Homo sapiens: one gene and its partners. The protein of the gene in region 2 purifies or fractionates together with the protein of the main gene of each other region. This does not show direct contact. Each region holds a gene or a part of one and is shown on either strand. Other genes may lie near its edges.

Region 1 (4,536 bases), on a different chromosome or scaffold from region 2:
AATCCTCATATAGGAATTTTTATCCTGCCCCTAATATATCCAGGATTTTTAACAGTCATTTCCCTGCTGATTTGATGTAGTGTTTGTGGGGTTTTTCTGGTTGTGAGCCTAGTTAAGAATGTTTGATAATCCAAGTGGTTCTGAATGGGGCAGAGTTCATTTTTTTGTAACCTTCCTAAAATGGATGTTTGTGGGGGTTAAGGTGGGTGAGTAAAATAGGGAGTTCGTTTCTTTTTTTGGTAAATTGGAAATTAGGTTGTGTGTCCAGCAAACATTCTCCAGGGCCTTTAAACTTCTTGGCCAGACACTACAGTTTTTTCCAGGACACGTCTAGTTGCCAATAGTGTATGCTATGGAGACCACTGCTGCAAAGGGCTTAAAGTAAAACGTCAGTTCTGGGAAAATAGAGGCTGTGGGATAACAAGAAGTTGATTTTTTTCCCCTCCCCTGCATTTCCTATATAGTGCTCCCCTACGTGGGCTGGAGGAGTGACAGAGCCAGACAGCTCTGATGCCTGATACTTGGACTTGATGTGAGGGGCAGTAAGGGATAGGTGTTTCTATTAATTAATGAATTAACTAGGACTTAGTAAAAGGCCAGTGATAAGGAGAATGAGTTTCAGTTAGAAATAGCATCCGTTTGATAGGTGTACATGTTTTAAGGCCTGGCTTTGGAATTTTCACATTTAAAAATGTAAAATTGAGTTAGTAGCAGGAGAACATGACATTCATTTCTCAAGACAAAAGCAACAAGAGAGATATTTGACATTCTCATAGGAACATTTTGAAATTTTGTGAGCGGACTAAAAATCTAATTTCAAGCCAAGCCTTGTAATTTTGTTGAGTGGACATGGATTTTAAGTACAGTGGAAGTGCAGTCTTGTAGAGACCTCTGATTAGTTTTGTTTAAACAGCTCCTGGAACAGATGTGATAAAACATATTAAAATGGCTACTCTGGTTAAAGGTTAAAGCCAGATGGAGGGAGGAGGCTGGTTTTCAGCCCTAGAACTTAGCTGCCTTACAAGTTGTCCTTGAACAAGTAACTTAACCTTTCTGTGACTGCCTCAGTTTTCCCTCTGTAAAAATAAGGAAATATTTTGTGTCACTCTTATTGGGACATTTGTGAGACTGACTTACTGATAGCCAGTTGGCGGGGAGGTATTTTTAGACACAGTTTCTGACTTCAGTGAATAAGCAATGCTGGGTTACTTTTTTATCTTAAGGAGCAGAAAAACATACTCTGTGATTGATAGACGTACAGCATGTCACAGTGTGGTTTTCTTTTTGTGCTTTTTTGTAGACCCCTTTCAGATTTCCTCAAGTTAATTTCTGTCTCTGGCAGGCTCTTACATCGTCGACTAGGCAGCATACCTGTGCTAATCAAAGACAGTCTGGAGGGAGTGACCTGCTTTAGGCTTTATTGGTTTGGCAACGTTTTAATTCTTACGCAACTCTGGGTATGTTTATGGCACTATGTAAATGTTACATAAGAACATGGAGGCTGAGAAGTGGCCAGAATGGTGACTGTGAACACAGGAAGGTTAGACTGAGGACTTTATCCAAAAGGACCTTGGGAATCTGCAATCAGTACAGGAAGAACCTGCACTTATTTTCCTCTAAGAACCTTTTTAGATGATTATGTCTTTCAGGTGGACTGCTGTGTTATAAATAGGTTTATTCTCCACCGGTGAGCTAATTGTAACCTTGCTACCAAAATATGAATCAGTAAACGATGAGACGTGCTGCTTCTTCCAGCATGTCCTGTTGAAGCTGCTTGTTGCATTTTGGAACATGAGTTGAATTGGGTTGCAGTCTGTTCTCATAATAGCTGAGGAGCACAGGGTGTTGAGGTGGAATGGAATTATCAGTTCGTGGTGCTTTAGGTCATCTTAATTTTTGAAGGTTAAATTAGAATACTGAAGTGGCTCTTTATAATTTTGAAATCTCTATTGTTTACTGTTCAATTTTTGCTCAGAGTAGCAGTGAACATTAATTCTGGGATCTCGCCTGTTTGTCTTCAGTTCTTGTGTTAGCTGTTGTTGTAGGAGTTGGTGTAAGAGGGTCTTAATCTCATTTTCCTCTCTGTATTCATAAAAAGGGAATCCTAGAGTCCTTTCTCACCAGTGCTTCTGATGCTGGACATAACTGCAGGCAGCCACAGCCCATCAGTTCCACTTGGACTGGGAATGCGGGAACCTTTTAAGTCCAACTTACATTTCTCTCACTCTGCAGGCACTGCCTCATGGCCAGGTTCAGATACCTGCTCTGAGTTTCTGTTCTCAGTTTTTCACTCTCATGCAGGTTTAACTTGAGCTTTGGCTTCAGAGGCACCATTTCTGTCCATGTCTGCTCTCTCTCCTCTGTTATGGAGAAATGGTGTGCTAAGCAAAAATATGATTTCAGAGAGTATCTTTCTTTCCTTTACTCTGTAGAGTTGCCATACTTTGGTTTAGCTGTGAAGTTTCCATCCCAGGCAATCTTTATCTGCTCTCTAGGGTTCAGAGACAGTGCCACTTTAGGCAACTCTGGGCTTTTTGGTTTTCTTTAGTGTCCACCCAGTCTTAAGCCTGCATTTGTCTCCCTAAATATTTTGAATTTAGCATAATGAAAGTAACTGCCTTTCCCTTTAAACCATAACATCACACCTAATATTTACACAGTTAACATATAGGAGATTTCTTTATTCATTGGATTGGGTATGTGCCTGGAACAGTTTTTGGCATGGGGAAATAACAGAGAACAAGATGAACAAAAGTCCCTAAATCTCTATTATGGAACTTATAATTGCAATGGCTTAGACTGAAAATAAATAAGTAAACACAATTATCAGTCCATGAGTGCTGTGAAGAAAATAAAACAGGATGCTGTGCCATAGTGTGCCTGGAGCTGCCACTTCACCTCTCTATCAGCTTCATTGTTTTATCTGTAAAATGGGGCTAATACAGTCTTGTTATTTGTGGTAGTTCCATAAAGTTGAATTGTAGAACTGAATTACCAAATCTTCAACCATTGCTCCTAGGGGAAATACAGGGCTAGGTTCCTGCGAGCCTCTGGTCACTTTTTCAACCTGTCAATACATAACCTTATTTTATGTGTTTCTTTTTTTTTCTTTTTTTGAGACAGGGTCTTGCTCTGTTGCCCAGGTTAGAGTCCAGTGACATGATCTCACTCACTGCAGTTTCTGCCTCCCAGGCTCAAGCAATCCTCCCACCTCAGCCTCCTGAGTAGCTGAGACCTCAGGTGTACACCACCACACCTGGCTAATTTTTGTATTTATTTACTTTTTGGTAGAGACAGGGTTTCGACATGTTGCCCAGGCTGGTCTTGAACTCCTGGGCTCAAGCAATCCACTCACCTGGGCTTCACCTGCTGAGATTACGGGTATGAGCCACTGAACCTGGCCTGTTTCATGTGTTTCTGTTTATTTTTATTTTTAATTTTTATTTTTTTGAGACAGTGTCCTGCTCTGTCACCCAGGCTGTATAGTACGAGAGTGTATCATAGGCCAGGCACAGTGGCTCACGCCTGTAATGCCAGCACTTTGGGAGGCCGAGGCAGGTGGATCATGAGGTCAGGAGTTCGAGACCAGCCTGACAAACATGCTGAAACCCCGTCTCTATTAAAAATACAAAAATTAGCCAGGTGTGGTGGTGTGCCTGTAATCCCAGCTACTCAGGAGGCTGAGGCAGGAGAATCACTTGAACCTGGGAGGCAGAGGTTGCAGTGAGCGGAGACTGCGCCACTGCACTCCAGCCTAGGCAACGGAGTGAGACTCCGTCAAAAAAAAAAAAAAAAAAAGCCAAAAACATCATAGCTCACTGCAGCCTGAAACTCCTGGGCTCAAGGAATCCTCCTTTGTCAGCCTCCCAAGTGGCTAGGATCACACGCACATGCCACCATACCCGGCTAATGTTTAAATTTTTTGTAGAGATGGGGTCTCACTTGTTGCCCAGGCTGGTCTCAAATTCCTGGGCTCAAATTATCCTCCTGCCTTGGCCTCCCAAAGGGCTGGGATTACAGGCCTGAGCTACCATGCCTGGCTTTGTTTCTGTTTAAAGACACCTTATTTAATATATATTGTTGGTTCATTAACATTGAACTTTACTGACAGCAGCACTATTAACTCATGCCTGAACTAAGCTTCTCTAACATGTATTTTCTCTGTGAGGCATATCACTATCTTCTTGCACTTAGGAACTCTAGACAGCACTTCAGCACTACTTGTGGGGGACCATTTTATACAGCAAAATCATCAATGAAAAGCATGACACTAAATATACTGCAGAAAGGATAACTTGTTTACAGTATGCCAGCTGAAACAAGAAGGCAGGGTGTTGCCTTGTTTGACCTCAGTTGGGAATGCATGTGGTGGGTGTTTCAGATGTTTCACTATTCTGTGCATGGCTGTCAGTGAGCAGGAAGGTACCATGAATGTTGATATTGGGGTTACAAATAAATTTGCATTAACCATATTTTGTTAGAACTGTATACAAAAGTGGTAGAAATAAAATTGTAGAATTTCACTAAACCAGAATT
Region 2 (5,572 bases):
CTCACTGCAGCCTCGAACTCCTAGGCCCAAGCAATCCTCCCACCTCAGCCTCCCAAGTAGCTGGGACTAGAGGTGCAATGCACCACACGCGCTAATTTTTTATTTTTATTTTTTGTAGAGGTAGAGTCTCCGTATGCTGCCCAGGCTAGTCTCAAACTCCTGGGCTCAAGCAAACCTGCTATTTCATTTTGCAGCATTCTAAGGAGCAACAAAATGGTATGTGTGGAGGAAACTCCCAATGGTACGTGGGCTTCTGCAAAAGGTCAACTTGAAGCAAACCCCAATGTCATCTCTAATTAGCTATGCAACCTCAGCCAAGTTTTGTTGATGCTCTGACCCTTAGTTTCCTTATCTGCACAAGTATTGTTGGCTGTTAAATATTAAATGTGATAATGTATGCACTATGCCTGGCACAGTTTTAAGCCTAATAGGTACTCAAAATGATAACAATTAGTATTAAATATAATAATTCCTCCCATCGGTTTCTAGCCTGGCACTGTTCCCAGCTCCTTCCTGTTCTTGGGCTGTTCATTCTAATTACCTCTCAGTTTAGAGCTAAAAGGGCAAGATAATTCAAAGAGTTGGGAGAATCTGCCCTTTCCAATGGAAACAGTGGGCAAAGGTTTTTCTTCATTCTACATTCTAAAAATTGTTGCTTTGCATGCAAAGGAGGAGGAAAAGCATGTGGCCATGTGTGTCATTTTCAGGTGGAAAAATGGAAGGCAGTGAGAGATGAGTGACTTTCTCAAGGTCACAGACCACAGGACCCTTCCTTGATAGAAAACATTTAACCCTACCTCACAGGATTGATGTGAAAATCAATTGAGAATATACGTGAATGTATTTTTTTTTCTAACCGCAAAGCACCAGACAGTAAAAAGATACTGCTTTTGTCCTTTCAAAAAAAAACCCACATTGCTGTTACCACAGTGGTCCAGGAACACAAAGAGAGAGCACTTTCTAGGGGGGAAATGAGTCATTGTGCGGCATGAGAGCTGATAGCCTCTTTCCGAGAGAGAACGCACACAGCTTATGCAGAGAGCTCCGGTTTCCTGGAAGACGTCCCGTGGCTGGCAGAGGGTGGAAGTTGGGGAAGGAGAGAGATGGGGAGTGAAGTGGGAGGGGATTGACTGGTCAACAGTGGAAACAAACACAGTCTCACGTGTCCAGAACTTATTCCAGGTAGAGCCCAGAGCAAACGTGAAGGGGGCCTGAAGGAAAGCCAAACCGGTTGTTTCCTTTGAAACCAATCCCTATGAAGTTATCTTCCTTGGAATTTTGATTTGAAGAAAGGTTCATTCTTACTTATTTTTTTTTTTCCTGACTGTATTTCTGCTCTTTCTGTCCCTCCCCCACAGCCTGGGCAGTCAAGCCTATTGAGCATCCTTTAGAGAGTTCACAGGAGTGAGGCTCCAGCTCTTCTAGCCCCAGATGTTAAATAAAGTAGGATGGGTTGCGCCCACTCTGGACGCCCGGCCGACTGCCATCCCTGGCACTCTAGCCAATCTCCCGAGTGCCAGAGGGAAAAAAGGGAAATGTCTGCAGGGTGTTGGCAATGCCATTGTCAATGCACGAGTGTGGGCCCTTCATTAAGATCGCGGTGCTCCTGATGTAACCAGAGCCTCAAACTCGCCCTGACTCACAATGAAAATGGAGAGTTAAGACATTCTGCTCTCACTGGCTCCATTGCTGTCTGTCTACCCCACCACATTCCACTGATTACTCTGAGAAAGAAATTTCCTATTTCATATTTATTCACTATAAGAATTTTCACCACATAATTCTATTCCTTTTCCCGATAGTAGCTACCTAAGCCTTTATGATGCTTCAAACACAGAGTGTGTTTTCAATAAATGTGGGAAGGAACAACCACCTAAGACTCAGAAGACCACAAATCTAATCCCAGCTTTGCCAGAAAGTTGCTCTATGAATCTGAGTCATTTTTCTTATCCCTGTAGGTTCACTTCCCTCATCTGTAAAATGGGAATATCACCTAGATGCTATGAGGCGCCAGTGAGACACTGCACATAGCAACAGTAAGCTATTAATATACAAGGAATTACTAGCATTTTAAAATGTATTTTTTCCCAGAGCTATTCTGTATACACAGCAATTTTCTTTTACCTGTTATTGGCAAACACTCAATTTGCAAGTCCTCTCCTCCTTTCTATTTTATAGGATAAACTCTACACATCAAAACTAATCTTCAGGGTAATCTGTGACTACCTATCAGATAGTCATTTCATTCTGGGTCTCTCTGACATCACCCCAACTCCATCCGCAGAATTAGTGCCATGAGCTGTGCAAGAGGCCTTCCTGATATATTTACAAATAGGTAAATTGCAGAAAATGATTTCAAGAATTTCCATCAGCTTTGTCAATGCTAGGACCAGAACTCCAGAACTCTAGCATTAGTAATGTTGTGTTTGCTTATGTTTGTAAAGAAGTTTACAATTTACAGAGCATTTTCAAATCCACTTTTTCACTAGATAATTCCAACCCTACTAAATAGGTAAGACAGTGACAATGTCCACTCTATAGATGAGAAAACTGAGGCTTGGGGAAGTTAAATAACCTGCCAAAAAGCCATACAACTAGATATCAACAGAACAATGACTCAGACCCACATCTTGCTGCAAAGCCAGTGGCCTCTCTGAATGCTATTTACCCCCTCTTCTTTCATCCAAGAGCAAAATGATGCCCCCTCCTCTTGCCTTCCTGGCATCCCAGCAGCCCTTCTCCTCTTTCCTCTCCATCACAGTTGGTTTCTAACTATTGGTGTTCTAAGAAGGGGTCTGACATCTGGCGGCTGCTTTTCTCTGCTTATATGTATGCCCTTGGCTTGCCCTGTGTGTCTGCCACTACAGTGGCTTAGGTCCAGATTCATGTAGAGCTAACAGTTCCCAGAGAACAAGGAATAAAGGCTGCTAGACAAAGAGATGGTCCAGGCAATAACTGTGATAATAATGGGCTGGAAAAGAAGTATTTGGGCTCTGTCTCCGTTCCCAGGACCAAGCCCCAGATCAAATCATGGTAACAGTGGTCTCAGCAGCTACTAGGCTAGTCATGGGATGGGCAGAGATAACACAACCTGATCCTCAGGCCAGTGGCCCTGACTAATGAGCTCACCAGGAGGTTTCTGTGCTTCCTAAGGTTGGGTGAGATTACTCAGGCCTTAGCTTCATCAAGACAGAAGAAGAGAGCTTCTTCACAGGTACTTTTCTGGCCAGTTTCCTCAGGACTCTGGGTAAAAGAGAAGTTCTCTGGAGCCCCCACACGCTGTGGGATCTTAGTGTCTCCACATCAAAAGGAAACCCATACCTGTGGCTGGGGCAGAGGTCTCTCATGATCCTTTTTTGTTTTGTTTTGTCTTTTTAAAAGACAGGATCTTGCTCTGTCACCGAGGCTGGCTGGAGTGCAGTGGCATGATAACAGCTCACTGCAGCTTCTATCTCCTGGGCCCAAGGGTTCCTCCCACCCCAGCCTCCTGAGTAGCTGGGACTACAGGCACATGCCACCATGCCCGGTAAATTTTTTTTTTCTTTTGTAGAGACAGGATCTACCTATGTTGCCCAGGCTGATCTTGAACTCCTGAGCTCAAGGGATCTTCCCGCCTAGGGCTCCCAAAGTGCAAGGATTACAGGCGTGAGCCACCACACCTGGCCTCATTTTCCTCCTGCCCTCAGGTCTGACTCCCTCTGCCTGGCTGTTGAGACCTTCTGGAATAGATTCTATTCTTTCTGATCTCTACTGTCCTTGTGTTTCTTACCCATACCTGACATCCCTCTCTAAAGTACCTCAAATTCACTTCAGGCAATCCCACCTCTAGGCTTTTCCACACACTGTTCTACCCACTCTCTTGGGAAAACTTTCCTCTCCTTTGTTGATCTTCATTTGTTGAAGGACAGTTAGAAATCCACCTCCTCCATGAAGCCTCCTCTGACTACTCCGGCACAAAATGATCTCACCCTTCTCTAAATGTTATTTAAAATTTATCCTTTACTTATTCTTTAACTGTTTTGTAAGTGTTAGTTCTCCCTGGTCCCACCCTACCCCCAACTCTAGATGGTCAGCCCCCCAAGAGCTGTGATTATGTCTTACTTCTTTTATAACCTTTTACTCTCTGTGAATTCTGAGTACCTAACAGGATTTTGGTGCAACTTCACCCTCATTGAGTGCCTAGCGCTGGGTGAATAGACATGTAAAAAGCTGGCTGGACACAGTGGCTCACACCTGTAATCCCAACACTTTGGGAGGTCGGGGCACAATAATTACTTGAGACTAGTTCAAGACTAGCCTGGGCAGCATAGCAAGATCTCATCTCTAAAAAAATTTATTTTTAATATATAAAAAGCCATGGGGACAGTTCTCAGAAAGATTGCAACTATTTTTGGGAAAACAGGACATAAATATGTTTAACCATGAGACTGGGAAGCAGTCTGGGGCTAGATAATAAAAGTTTGGAAGAACAGGTGAAAGAGTTTGAGCCATACTTTGTAGACAATGGAGTTATTAGAGGTCTTTTTTTTTTATACTTTAAGTTTTAGGGTACATGTGCACATTGTGCAGGTTAGTTACATATGTATACATGTGCCATGCTGGTGCACTGCACCCACTAACTCGTCATCTAGCATTAGGTATATCTCCCAATGCTATCCCTCCCCCCTCCCCCCACCCCACAACAGTCCCCAGAGTGTGATATTCCCCTTCCTGTGTCCATGTGATCTCATTGTTCAATTCCCACCTATGAGTGAGAATATGCGGTGTTTGGTTTTTTGTTTTTAAGCAGGAGAGTGGAGACACGTACAAGACAGAAGATTAATTTGGCTGCAGCCTTGCTTACTTCCCTCGGGCCACATGGAGGCTTCTCTCTGTTCCTCTGTTTGTAGAACCCATCTGGTTTGTTCCTGCCTCTGGGCCTTTTCACTTACAATCCCCCTTGTCTGGGATGCTTGCTCCCTGTCTTCCCAAGGCAGGCTCTTTCCCCCTGTGTCATTCAGAAGCCAGTTCAAAGGCCTCTCCTCGGAGACCCTTCTCTTGACTACTCACCTAGAATAGGTCCCACCCTCAGCCACCCTCGACATTTTACCTGTGTACTTCTTTTGTTCAGAGTATTTCTTGCTTCTGAAATTACCTTCCTTTTGTGTTTGCCTGACTGGATCTCTCTCCATCCTTTGGTTATAAGCTCCAGGAAAGCAAGGAGTTTTTTTTGTCTTATTCACTGTCGTATCTCCAGTGCTTGCAATAGCATCTGTCACATCACAGTTACTCTATAAAAATGGATTGTTTAAATGAATGAATGAATGAAAGTTTAGGATGGATTGTCAGGGGAGTAGCGTTGACAGATGGGCAGATCCAAGAAACACTGAAGGCAGGAAGACCAAGAGGAGACTAGGATACCAGCCCTGAATGAACAAACGGGTATTGCCAAGACCTGGAGGTTGAATGAATGCTGGTAAAGAAGGGAGAGCAGCCAGGACAAAGGAGACTTTCTTCTAGGTTAGATGCCTCGGAGAACAATGGAACCAATAATATAGACAAATACAAGCAGGTAGATGATAAATAGTTCTGT
Region 3 (4,536 bases), on a different chromosome or scaffold from region 2:
CCCTTTTTTTTTTTTTTTGAGACAGGGTCTTGCTCTGTTGCCCAGTTTGGAGTGCAGTGGTGCAATCACAGCTCACTGCAGCCTTGACCTCCCAGGCACAAGCCATCTGCCTACCTCAGGCAACTGAGTAGCTGGGACTACAGGCACGCACCATCACGCCCAGCTAATTTTTGTATTTTTTGTAGAGGCAGGATCTCATCACGTTGTCCAAGCTGGTCTTGAACTCTTGGCCTCAAGTGATCCTCCTGCCTTAGCCTCCCAAAGTGCTGAGACTATAGGTGTAAGCCACCTCGCCTGGCCTTTATCGATTTTTTTTTTTTTTGAGATGGAGTCTCGCTGTGTCACCAGGCTGGAGTGCAGTGGCACAATCTCGGCTCACTGCAACCTCCAACTCCCTGGTTCAAGCAATTCTCCAGCCTCAGCCTCCCAAGTAGCTGGGATTACAGGCACATGCCACCACGCCCAGCTAATTTTTGTATTTTTAGTAGAGACGGGGTTTCACCATGTTGCCCAGGATGGTCTTGATCTCCTGACCTCATGATCTGCCTGCTTCGGCCTCCCAAAGTGCTGGGATTACAGGCGTGAGATACCGCGCCTGCCCTCTGCTATTTTTTTTTAAGTTATAATTTTCCAAACTACATAAACCATATAGAGAAAGCATGAACAGTTGGTCATGACAAAACATAACAATGCTACTTTTAATACCTGGAGAAGATATGGATGCCAGTTGGTGTTTACACTGTGTCTTCTGAGAAGAAAGCATTGCACAGCCCACATAAAGAGCTTGAGTCTGCAGCACTGTTTTCACACTGCAGTTTAGTGGATTTGAAAGGCTAGAACCATAGGTCCATAAAACAGAACAGAACTTGAATAACTGAAAAACATCTTCTAGATGCACCTAATTAAAAAAAAAAAAAAGCAAACTTTTAATTCTTACTCAAATAAGCTGGTTCCAAATCCTCTTCTCACTAGTGTACAATTATAAAGAAACAAATAATTTAAGGCAAAGTTTTGCTTTGTCTAATCATTTCAAATTATTCCATATTCCATGTTTTAATGAACTGGGAAGATGTCAATGAAGAGTGATATTCAGAAGCCTCACTATAACCTTGCACTTGAAAACACAGAACCAAGACAAGAGCAGTATCTGGGACGCCTAATTAAGAAAATACTTCAACAATGTGCTGAGCAATGCCAACTCCATGTCAAATGCTGTAGAGAGAACAAGTCAGGCAAGAACAGGAACTGACCACTGGGCCTGGCAACATGGAGGTCACTGGTGCTGGGGATGAAATTTCCTGAGTAACTTCACGTGTGCTAAATAACCTCTCTGAACACCAGTATTCACATTTTTAAATGGTATTAACCAATCAAAAAGACTGGGCTGTTGTTATTTTTAAATATAGTAATGGGCCTAACATATTAGTAGGAGTGTAGCAATGTTAGTTTCTATTCAACCTACCGATTAGTATTGTGATTGTACTCTTTTACAGGGCCCGTGCTATTATATACTCTTCACTGTTTACAAGTCTACTTTTGTTTACATTATAAACTGTCATAACCCAAATAACCCACAGTATCTTTTTATTTATTTATTATTTTTTTTGAGATGGAGTCTCGCTCTGTCGCCCAGGCTGGAGTGCAGTGGAGCGATCTCCGCTCACTGCAAGCTCCACCTCCCAGGTTCATGCCATTCTCCTGCCTCAGCCTCCCGAGTAGCTGGGACTTCAGGAGCCCGCCACCACACCCGGCTAATTTTTTTTGTATTTTTCGTAGAGACGGCGTTTCACCATGTTAGCCAGGATGGTCTCGATCTCCTGACCTCGTGATCCACCCACCTTGGCCTCCCAAAGTGCTCGGATTATAGGCGTGAGCTACTGCGCCCAGCCCATCTTTTTTTTTTGAGACAGAGTCTCACTCTTGTCACCCAGGCTGGAGTACGGTGGTGTGATCTCGGCTCACTGCAACCTCTGCCTCCCGGGTTCAAGCGAATTCTCCTGCCTCTGCCTCCCAAGTGGCTGGGATTACAGGCCCCATCACCATGCCTGGCTAATTTTTGTATTTTTAGTAGAAATGGAGTTTCACTATGTTGGCCAGGCTGGTATTGAACTCCTGACCTCAAGTGATCCGCCTGCCTCGGCCTCCCAAAGTGCTGGGATTGCAGGCCAGCCATATCTTCTTTAAGGGTAGAGTACGCCTGAAAAGGAGGAGGCTTGTACCTTTATGAAAAGTTTCATCAGAACTCTGAAATGAACAGCATCGGCACCATTGAGCATCATCTCAAACAGCCCAATGAGCAAGTGCAGATAGTCCCTGCTGTCTTCTTTCAGTTGTTCAGGATTCCACCATATATCACCTACAAGGACATGGAAAGAGAAATGATGCTAGATCCTACATGAACATGCTGGGAGCTTTTTATTCAAGACAGTCATTGTGGAGTCAATCATTCAGTTTTGCAGAGTATCACATTTAAAAGATTCACAGCTTGTATCTTACCTTTAGGAAAAGATTTAGGAGCTTTCAGTGCATAAATAAATTTTTTCAAGGAAAATACAAGAAAAACCGAGTCCTCCACGGCCACCCTCTGAGTGCTGTTGAGCTCTTCTACATAATGTGCCCACAGCTCCACTGGGATCCCTCTGTCTAACATCAGTTCAATGTGCCATTCTGAGGGGATTTCCTGAAATGTTAAAGGAAACAAAAACTAGTACAAACTAAGGGTTCTGAACATGGGTTATATGAATTCCTCTGCATAATATGCAAAAGTTTTGTTTATGTGTGCATTTTGGTGGGGAAAGGATTAACAGAACTGCTTTGGTCGGATTTTTAAAGAGGTTTATCACTATTCACAAGGAAAGACAAAGTTAAATTTTATCTATGTCTTACCTTGAAACATTATCTCTAAAAACAAACTTTATTCATATGAACTGTTTATCCAATAAAGGGTAGGAATAAATAGGCATATTTCTTTTTTTTTTTTTTTTTTTTGAGACGGAGTCTTGCTCTGTCACCCAGGCTGGAGTGCAGCGGCACAATCTCAGCTCACTGCAACCTCCGCTTCCCAGGTTCAAGCAATTCTACTGCTTCAGCCTCCCGAGTAGGAAGGATTACAGGTGCCCGCCATCATGCCTGGCTAATTTTTGTATCTTTAGTAGAGATTAGGTTTCACCATTTTGGCCAGGTTGGTCTCGAACTCCTGTCCTCAGATGATCCACCCGCCTCGGCCTCCCAAAATGCTGGGATTATAGGCGTGAGCTACCGTGCCTGGCCAAAATAGGTATATTTCAAAACAGGAAGATAAACAGTTGGATTGCCAAGACATAGTTAAAGGGAATTCTTTGATTTCACTGTTTTACCACTAATCTGAATAAGGTACATGGCAAAAATCTCCAAACCTGCAGATGATTTTAAACAAGCAGCAAAATGTTAGGTGTTTAGAAATTATACTGTAAGTGCCAAAAGAATGCAGAACAGGTGTAAGAAAATGACAAATATGACTCTGTACAAGCAGTACAGAGTAATAACTTAGAAGGAAAATAATCCAAAGCCAGATTTACAATGTAACGTCTCCAGTGAGGGATTTGATTAACTCAACGTGCTGCTACAGGCGAAAACATGCTCATGACCTCGAGAAAGGTATTAAAAGTAAAGCAATATAAAATAACCTGTTATCTACATATGTATAATAAAACACTCTATTTGTCCATACTTTTAACACTGAGAACCAGTATAGTTCAGGTCATCATACTTCACAAAAGACACCAAGAAACTAAAAGTTAAGAAGGGCCTATCTGGACTATTTTTCAAAATATGAAGATTTTACTCTTTTTAAAGTTTACACATTTTAGCTAACAATGGCCATGATCAGAACTTATAAAATCCTGCGGGTATACGTAAATGTGAAAAAGATATAATTCATTTAGTAAATCCTATAATGAGAAGCCCTCTAAAATTTGGAGGACAAATAAAAACAAAATCCTTACATATAGCAGATATTAAAAAAAAAGTCTTGCTACCTCAAAACATGTCAAATGTAAACAGCTGAAACATGTCCTTTAGTAATACTATGAAAGACAGTAGTAGGCTGGAGGGATACACATCTATGTAATATTAAAATTATTTAAAGCCTAAAAGATCTATTTTTAGTAAACAATTGAATGAAATAGTATTTTGTTCAAGCACTAACACACCAAGTGAATTCTTCATCGCTAGAGGTAGTTAGGTGTAGCTTGGGTAATTATCCAATAAAGACAATAAAAGAGAGGAGAGTCAGGCATCAGATACAAAATATTGCAACCCTAAAATTTTATAATTCAACTAAACTTTCCGCAAAAGCAAGGGAGTGCCTAGTTGACTATCTCACTGCTACCCAAGACTGCTTCACATTTCATCCAGCTACTATCCACAGACTCAACATCTCGCCTCTGATTTTCAGTTTTGCTGTGACTAATAGGCCAGGCTGTTGTTTTATTCAACATCCCACTTTCTGGAGATTCTGCTTTCCTTACCACTGCAGTAATGACACTTTCAAGCTTC
Region 4 (3,288 bases), on a different chromosome or scaffold from region 2:
AAGCTGGTCTAAAACTCCTACCTCAAGCGACCCTTCCATCTCAGCCTCCCAAAGTGTTAGGATTACAGGCGTGAGCCATAGCACCTGGCCCCATTGTTTTATTTATTTTTTTGGCCTGTCTAGGAAGTATGAATGTCTCTGGACTAGGCGTAGTGTGGCAGAGTTGATCTGTAAAATAGGACCTGGTTTCTTCATTCTCTTTAGAATTTATTTAATTTTCCCTCCATTTAAAAAGATTATTTCTTGAGCTGTTTGGGAGTAAGTTATAGCAATAAATATTTAACCCTGTATTTTTTAAGAACAAAGGCATTCTTATTCATCAGCAGAATGCAGTCATTAAATTCAAGACATTTACCATTGATATGACCTCTTTTAACCTGGAGATGTTCCCTATCTTTTGTTTTTTAAGACATTTTTGAGGCGTACAGGCCCATTGTTTGGTAGAATGGTCCTCAATTTGGGTTTGTCTTTTATTTTCTTATGATTGGTTTCATGAGCTTATACAGTCTGAAGGAATTATCCCAGGAGAGATGTGGCGTGGTCCTCTTTGTGTATCACATCAGAAAGCATTTGATGTGTATTCCATTTTTGGTGATGTTAAATTGACCTCTTGGTTGAGGTATATAATTTATTTCTAATGCTAATAAAAGATAGCTCTCTGCATTATATTTTTTGGAGGGAAAGAGGGCCTTCCATAGGGATGCTCTGTCTTAGGATGGAAAACTGGAAGGTTCCCTGGTGGAAAGGTCTCATAGCTAATTGACGTGTCAGAACCATGGCTGGTTACCACGTCTGCAGACTTTGGCCCGAGTGCTTCATCCAGTGGTGACTGATCATCTCCTGATAAGAAGCCCATTCATTAAGGGCTTACTCTGTGGTAGGCATTGTCTATCTTACTCCTTAGAGCCCTCCTGTGAAGGAGGAGGATCATATTAGCTCAGGCAGAGCCACTGGGAAGTTGGATGACTTGCCTGCAAGTGGCAGAGCCACTTCCCTGGAAGTCTTTCTACTGTGGTTCCTGCATGCCCTTCCCCCAGACAGACTCCCACACTCACCCCTGCACCCATGCCTGCACCCGTAACGCTCTGCTGGTCTCTGCCCCACAGTGGCCATCAACCTCATCGTGCAGCACATCCAGGACATCCTGAATGGAGGGCCCTCCAAACGGCAGACCAATGGCTGTCTCAACGGCTACACCCCTTCACGCAAGAGGCAGGCATCGGAGTCCAGCAGCAGGCCGCATTGACCCGTCTCCATCGGACCCCAGCCCCTATCTCCAAGAGACAGAGGAGGGGTCAGGAGGCACTGCTCATCTGTACATACTGTTTCCTATGACATTACTGTATTTAAGAAAACACCATGGAGATGAAATGCCTTTGATTTTTTTTTTCTTTTTGTACTTTGGAACGACAAAATGAAACAGAACTTGACCCTGAGCTTAAATAACAAAACTGTGCCAACTACTACTGGTGATGCCTAATTATGAATCCAACGTGTAACCAGTTATAAATACATATATATATAAAAAAGGATCTATTTTTGTGTAAATGTACAAATACTGTAAAGCTGTTTGCCATAAGTATTTTGCAGGAGGGTCTGTACTTGAGTGTTTTAGGACTGGAGCTGGAATTTCACCAAGGGGAAATTGCCTGTTGTGTCCCAGGGTGGGGAGGCTCGGGCATCTGTGAGAGACAGGGAGGGTGGCTAAGGTCCAGTTGCTTTTGAGTGCCCCGTGGAACTTGATGGGAATGGGGTTGGAAAACCTTGATTGCCTCCTCTGTCACATGCCACTCTTGGAGCTGGAGCTTAGTGATATGTCAATGAGAGATACTCTTGTCTTTTTTTTTTTTCTTTTCTTTTTTTTTTTTGAGTTGAAATTAGGTAAAATCTCAACTCAAAAATCAAACTCAGGGAAGAGGCCCACTGAGGAGAACAAGTCTTCTGCATTTTCTTCCTGCCCTGCTCCCACCTTCTCGCCTCTGGCTGCTTGGATAGCTTGGTGACTCCTTCCTCACCCTCCTGCTTCTCTGTCTCTCCAAGAAGCCAGAGCTGCCTCTTTCCTTCCCTGGAAGAGATTTTATGGGATCGCTTCCTGATAGAAGATGGGAAGGAGAGGGCAGAACTTTGCCTGCTGTCATATCTGAAGAATCACTGGTTCTTTCTGCATCCCAGGGGCGTAACTGATCTGACTCCTTGGGCTTTTTCCTGTATTGTGGAATATAGAGTGGACCATTGCAGGCTGGGTGTGGGTGAGGGCTTCGGTAACTGATGCCGGCAGCAGCGCCTCATGGAGTGGCAGGGGAGCTCTGTCTGTGGAGGGGTAGTAGTTTCCGCTTCCTGGAGGTTTGCAGTGAGGTGAGGAGAGTAACTTTGGTCAGGGATTCTCACTAGCAGCGTCATGGCCAGGATGCTTTACTTATTTGCAATACCACCTAGTGGATATGGCAACTGCAGAGCATAAAAGGGGCTCGGAAAAGCAGTTTTTACAAAGTATTTAAAAGGAGAGTATTTAAATCATAGGTACCTAAGTTGGAGCCTGAGGTTGAAATATTTGGGGTGGAGATTTCTAGCTTTCCTGAGAGCTGCTGCTTGGTGGTAGTGTTTTCTCTGGAAGTACAGATTCCTGACATTCTGGGTGGAGGGGAGCCCAAGTGAGCCTGAAGGAGTTCTGATTATAGAGTCCCGAGCCTCAGTTTCTGACTGCAGAAGAGCCAGAGATGTTCATTTCATTGTTGACCACCCTAGTGCTTGGTGGACTGTGCCCTTAGCTATCCCACTGTGGCTGCCATTGCCAGAAACATTTTGGAGAACCTTTTCTTCCCATTGCTCTCAGAGCCTGTTCGAGCCATTCAGGTAAATTGGTCTCCATTATTACCTGGTCACACCAGATTTTCCCCCAGACTCAGCACCATCCAGTCTGATTCCCCGTTTCTGGGCTCAGTTTGACTCTAAATCTGTTTTGCTATTTTAAAAAGTCAAACCTGGTCCCCAGCAGAGCTTGCCACCCGGAGACTTTCAGGAGACCGTGCAGGCTCTGAAGGGAGCTCCCAGTCACAGCAGCCGCCTACTTGGAGCAAGGGAAGGCTCCCAAGATGCCTCCTTTGAAAGCCGGTGCTCACCAAGATCAGTTCAGGATCAATCATTATCCTTGTAGTCATGCCTTGATCAGTTCTGAGATGAAGCAGGGAATGCAGGCCTGGGTTAGTATCCTGAGGACACAGGGCCCCTGGCCTTGATGGCACTGGGCTGTGCTCAGGTGAAGCCCACCCGTGTCTGGGAGAGCCTTGG

The links. Proteins that work in one complex are often made in the same cells at the same time.
Region 1: the proteins of PROKR1 (region 2) and ACVR1B purify together in Homo sapiens (affinity purification with mass spectrometry; one large-scale study listed by BioGRID and IntAct). This does not show direct contact.
Region 3: the proteins of PROKR1 (region 2) and HEATR1 purify together in Homo sapiens (affinity purification with mass spectrometry; one large-scale study listed by BioGRID and IntAct). This does not show direct contact.
Region 4: the proteins of PROKR1 (region 2) and UCK2 purify together in Homo sapiens (affinity purification with mass spectrometry; one large-scale study listed by BioGRID and IntAct). This does not show direct contact.

Annotation. Positions count from the first base shown.
Region 1 is NC_000012.12:51,953,663-51,958,198, forward strand, and holds part of ACVR1B (activin receptor type-1B isoform a precursor), read left to right. Parts: intron 1-4,536. UniProt on the Homo sapiens protein: Transmembrane serine/threonine kinase activin type-1 receptor forming an activin receptor complex with activin receptor type-2 (ACVR2A or ACVR2B).
Region 2 is NC_000002.12:68,649,173-68,654,744, reverse strand, and holds part of PROKR1 (prokineticin receptor 1), read right to left. Parts: intron 1-5,572. UniProt on the Homo sapiens protein: Receptor for prokineticin 1. Exclusively coupled to the G(q) subclass of heteromeric G proteins. Activation leads to mobilization of calcium, stimulation of phosphoinositide turnover and activation of p44/p42 mitogen-activated protein kinase.
Region 3 is NC_000001.11:236,580,517-236,585,052, forward strand, and holds part of HEATR1 (HEAT repeat-containing protein 1), read right to left. Parts: coding exon 4,509-4,536; intron 2,681-4,508; coding exon 2,497-2,680; intron 2,357-2,496; coding exon 2,220-2,356; intron 899-2,219; coding exon 706-898; intron 1-705. UniProt on the Homo sapiens protein: Ribosome biogenesis factor; required for recruitment of Myc to nucleoli. Involved in nucleolar processing of pre-18S ribosomal RNA. Required for optimal pre-ribosomal RNA transcription by RNA polymerase I.
Region 4 is NC_000001.11:165,906,578-165,909,865, forward strand, and holds part of UCK2 (uridine-cytidine kinase 2), read left to right. Parts: intron 1-1,106; coding exon 1,107-1,246; 3' UTR 1,247-3,288. UniProt on the Homo sapiens protein: Phosphorylates uridine and cytidine to uridine monophosphate and cytidine monophosphate. Does not phosphorylate deoxyribonucleosides or purine ribonucleosides. Can use ATP or GTP as a phosphate donor.